Regions from separate parts of the Homo sapiens genome. Here region 2 is linked to region 1. Evidence: fine-mapped expression QTL. Tissue or cell type: whole blood. Region 1 holds a variant in brackets; the other region holds the start of a gene. All regions are shown on one strand. Distances are between the middles of the regions.

Region 1 (2,723 bases):
GTGTCCCCACCCAAATCTCATCTTGAATTGTAACTCCCACAATTTCCATGTGGCATGGGAGGAACCTGGTGGGAGGTAATTGAATCATGGGGGCAGGTCTTTCCCATGCTGTTCTCATGGTGAATGAATCTCACCGAATCTGATGGCTTTACAAATGGGAATTTTCCTGCACAAGCTTGCTCGCTCTCTTTGCCTGCCACCATCCACATAAGATGTGACTTGCTCCTCCTTGCCTTTTGCCATGATTGTGAGGCCTCCCCAGACATGTGGAACTGTAAGTCCAATTAAACCTCTTTTGTAAGTTGCCCAGCCTTGGGTATGTCTATTAGCAGCGTGAAAATGGACTAATACAGCAGCCATCACTGCCATCCATCCACAGAACTTTTAAAAAATCATCTGCCCATCCTTTTATAGTAAACCTTTCTGAATCATTCTTGATTTGCCTAAGCGTATCCTTAATAATTTTTTTAAGAAGGGGTCATGGGAACTTTAATTCAAAAATCTGTTCAACATGTTTTTCTGTTGACTTTATTCTTGACAGATGGTTCATTGGGCTTTAAATTCTTGGTTTATTCATTCATTTGACAAATATTTATTAAGCCCCTACAGTATGCCAGTTACTGTTCTAGGCCCTGGCAATGCAGCGATGTGTAAAACACACAATCACCTTAACCCTCTTTTAGCTAACTTTCTATTTGGGGAAGACAAACAATAAACTATTCAAGTAAGTACAATAGGTGGTATGCTGGATGGAGGTGTGTGCTATGGAGAAAAACAAAGTGGGTGATGGAGAGTACCTGGACCTGGCTTAGTTCTATGAAGCAGAGGAGATGGCCCCACAGAATCTCTCACCCTTAGCCCCTGTACACATTCCCACTAATGCAAAGGGTGGAGAGTAGGTTCTGCCTCTTGGCGTATCACTCACTCTGGGGAGGTGGGCTTTGCTGGCTTGGTCGGAGCCACTCCCTTGACTTCTCCATTTAGTTGAAGATGGTTTATCATTTAAGAACACTCACCAGATGCAATTTACGCAAGTAAAAGAAATTCAACTGCAATGGTATGAAGGGGGTAGTTCAGGGCTGCCACCAGAACCAAGTTTCTGCCTGCTTTCTACTCCACCTGTGTTAGTGAGCGTCTTTCATTCTCATGCATGCAAGATAGTTCATTTCCCCCTGGATTCATGTCCCCTTCCCAATAGACTCCCACTTACACAGCGTTAGCCAGACTGGGTCATGTGACCACCCCTGCTTGCAAGGGAGTCGGGGAAGGTAAGTATTTGTGACTGGGCAATTGCTCTTATAATAGACACAGGGCAGTGGGGTTCATGCTGCTTTCCACAGATGGAGTCTGTATTTCTTTTCCTCATTGTCTTGTTTGCAACTTGACTCTGCCAATCAAAGCTATAAGTAAGTGCCCCGCAGATCTGTTTCCACACTGTAGATCTTGTTCCACTGGTCTCCTGGCTTTTCCCTATTCCAGGAGCACCTTGGTCTCTTCTTTATAGCTTTGTATGACATGGTCATATATTAGTGCCATTCCAAAATACATAATGGTTTTTGTCAATATGAATGGTATCTGTATCTGTGTTTAATATTTAGTTTGTTATGGCAATGGTGACCATATAATTTATCAGCCAAATCAGAATACTTTTGAGGATAAAAGGGGAACAACATTAAAAATTATGTCAGAACAAGTGT[T/C]AACTGAGACTGTCCCAAGCCATGACATATAATTACCCTAGTAATTGCTGAGGTCAGTGCACACTGTTGCATTTTATAAATTGATCTGATGTCTTATAGGTTGACTATTATACGTCTATGTCTGCACTCTCCATTCTACTAATTAACCTGTTGATTCTGTTAAATTTTCTATGTAAGTTATCCACAATTAACTGTAATTTTGGTTCTTCTATTCCAGTCCTATTCTATGCTTATTTTTCTTGTCTTATTGCATGGGCCAGAGCTCTAGTACTATATGGAGCTATAATGATAGCAGACATTTTTTTTCTTTCTTCCAGTCTTAAAGTCACATGGTTCGCAATGTTCAGAAGACAAAACCCACATGCTCAGAGAAAACCTGGCTTCTTCCGGCACTGAGGCCAGAGAGAAATGTCCCCATGGAGGAGACACCATGTGATACTTTTTTTCCTTGTATTTCCTCCAGAAAACGCTTTTGCTGTGCCTCAGGATGGGGGAGATGAGATCTGAAGCACCCGGTGCAGCCTCCGAGAAGAACAACTTCTACAGAGATGCCAGGGACAGCCGAGGTAGCGGCGGTGGCACAGGAGGAAATGCTGCCTGTGCCCAAAGCCCCCTTCCGCGGACTTCTAAGATTAGGAGCAAACTCAGGGGTAGGGGCTGGGGGTGCAGGGGAGGGGATTCTGAGCCACCTGTCCGCAAGCAATAGTCCTATTTTGGGCTGGTGGCTTCTGAGAGGTGACTCATTGTGGACTCAGGATGACCAAGACAAAGCAACTCTGGCTGATTCCAGCCAGGAGGATTGAGGCCTGTGAGTTATACCTGTGGTTGAAAACCGAAGCTTCCCTTGCCCCTGCTCCCTCCAGTAGTGGCCCCTTGGGGCTATTTGTGTCAGAATATTGAATGTGCGTGTGTGTGTGCGTGTGTGTGATTTGGGGTGTTCTTTTTGTTTGCTTGGTTGGTTGGTTTTTATTGGGGCTTCCCCCCTCAAGTTCTCTGATGGGCATGAGTCACCCTCCGGCTGGGGGT
Region 2 (2,500 bases), 70 kb after region 1:
GGCAACTCCTCAGTAGAACAGGGAGGGAGGACGCCGAGCAGCCTCTGAGCAGGGGCAGCCGGAGGGGCCGTGGGGACTCAAGGTCCCACTTTACCGACTCCCTTCCCCGGGTGGCCTGGGCTGGGACTGCACTCTGGGATCCTTCCCAGGTGGTGTCTGGGCCCCTCCCTCCGTGACCCCCAACACTCAAGTATGGTGGCCCCGATGCCAGAACTCACCCAACCGCTTTCCACGCAGGAAAACAAAGGCCTACTGAGTGCAAAGGGTGGTCCCTGGATTCCGAATGGAAGCAAGTTCCGGGTTCTTCTGGGGTCTTCGGGGACCAGGCCGGGAGGCAGGAGCCCCGCTGCTCACTTCCTCCAGGCCCGCTCAGCCGGCAGGAGCTTCCTCCTCTCTGCGGCAGGGCCCGAGGGGGGTGGATGCCGTGAAAGTGAAGCTGCCACAAACCTCCAGAAAGCTCTGCCCGGAGCCCCAGCGCCCGCCGTGCCGCCTGGGCCCCCGGGGTTCTGCAGGCCACTTAAACTCAATGCTTTCATTTCTCCCCCTCTCCCCGCCTTCCCCAAACCATGCCAGTTTCCCCGCAGGCTGTTCACCTCCAAAATGGCAGCTACATAGGCCAGAGCCTGGGGTCGACCCCCGCAACCCACCACCAGCACCCTGTCAGCCTGGCCTCCACCCTCCATCCCGCACCGCCGTCCTCCCACCTCCACACCCCGCCCCGGGCCAGGCCCCTTCCTCTCCCGGGACCACGCAGGAGACTCCTACCTGGACTCTCGGCTGCAGACTTCCCCACGCCCCCTGCCCGCCCCTGAGCTGAGGCTCCCACAAGCCCTCGGAGGAGTGAGTCACTTCCTGACCCCACTCACTCAAACCCACCAACGGCACCCAATAGCTCTTAAAATAAAATCCAGGCTGTGCGTGGTCTGTCTCTCTCAATCGCGGTTACATACCCGTGTCTAGAACAATGCTTGGCACAAAGTGGGCTCAGTGAATAAATATTGGTGGTGGTTGTTGCCAAGGGGATCGGGAAGGCTTTCCAGAGGAGAATGGGGCCTTGACGGCTGCATAGGAGTTTGCAGTGGAAGAAGAAGGGGTGAGAACGTGGCAGGTGGAGAAAACAGCGTATGCAAAGGCATAGCAGGGTTCGAGAAGGAGAGATCTCAGCACAGTAGATAGAGAAACACTTCAGACCCGAGCTGGTCTCTCAAGCTGGAATCTTCACCATCCGGGCTGAAATGGTGAGTTTCCCTAGCAACAGGTGACTGGGAAGCTATCTACCCTTTCTGACAGGTTAGGCAGAAAGTGGCTAAATCAGGTGGGATGCAGGTGTAAGGAGTGTGTGAGAGCAGGAAAGTAGGGTCGTTTACAAGAAGTTAATAAAAAATGACAAAACTTAGTACTGGTATTGTTGCTAATATTTATGGAGTCATTGGTGATGAAACAAACATAATTTTAAGGGCTTTCATTTTACTGGAAACTTCCTTGTGAGGTAGGTACAATCATCACCCCCATATTACAGAGGAAGACACTGAGGCACATGAGTCAGTCCCTGCCATTCTGAAGTGCCCGTGCTAGACTGGGGCTTGTAACAGGTGGGGAGAGAAGCCACCGTGCAGGACCTATTTTGCTGGGGCGTGTGTAGCAGGCTCAGCCCAGCTCTGGACACAGTGGTTCTGGTGGTGGCTTCTGACTCTGGATCACAGCCACATAGATGTAGCAGCAGTCACAGTCCCAGCAGCAAAGAGACGGTATATTCCCATGTGCTAACTGAAGACTGTTTAATAAAGGGACAGCTGGGGCAGGGTTAAAGGAACCCAGAAGAGACAGTGCTACACCCCAGGCTAGCAACATGGGGAGCTGTTACTTCTTCAAAACCTAGAGGGTGAAGGAGGGAGTGGGTGGCAGAGCCCAGGAACAGAATCACTGAAGCTCTAAGAGGGGCCTCGGGATAGGAGCTGTGGCCTTTGGTAGAGGGACACAGCCAGCTCATGGTGAACCAGCAGAAGGGCACAGCTGGAGGAATCAATGACCAAGCCTCACTCTCCTCCCTCCTGCCAGGGCCTCCCCTGCCCACATCCAGCCAGAAGCCAGAGAAAAGAAGTCCCCTGCTGCGGCCCATAGATGTGAGGAGAGAAAATGGTGGGGAGTGGATCTGCAGAGGTGAACCTAAAGCATTCAACCCAGAAAGCATGCTTCTAGGGCCAGCCTGACTCGGCAGCTTCCTTCAGGAGCCAGCTCTGCAGTATTCTTCCAAGAGTCCTTGCTGGAGGCGCTGCCTCCAGCCTTCCAACAGCTTGAGAATCACACAGCTTCCTATGTTAGATTCCTTTCTCCTCCAAACAACTGAAGAGACTCTAATCATCGGCAACTGAATCCCAATTAACTTCGGATTTGTTACCAGAAACAATTGCAGGCAACACGACCTCCAGGATGGGAACTGGGATTGGTTACTTGTTCTGGTTGATTTAAAGGCAGTGGGGACCTAGTAACTGTTAGAGAA

What was found. PIP is the estimated chance that this variant, and not a neighbour inherited with it, causes the effect.
Region 2: PARVG starts here. The variant in region 1 is fine-mapped to the expression of PARVG in whole blood (TOPMed, PIP above 0.99).

The regions. Positions count from the first base shown.
Region 1 is chr22:44,249,123-44,251,845 of GRCh38, reverse strand. It overlaps SHISAL1 (shisa like 1), which reads left to right. Exons shown (of 5, transcript NM_001099294.2): 5 at 2,161-2,723. The coding sequence ends at 2,161. Among named protein-coding and RNA genes, the nearest start is that of SHISAL1, 62 kb to the left of the region's middle. The variant T/C (reference allele first, on the strand shown) is at 1,698.
Region 2 is chr22:44,179,636-44,182,135 of GRCh38, reverse strand. PARVG (parvin gamma) reads right to left here and starts at 1,211. Exons shown (of 14, transcript NM_022141.7): 1 at 951-1,211; 2 at 219-394. RefSeq lists enhancers at 1-493, 494-1,224 and silencers at 601-730, 1,901-1,950.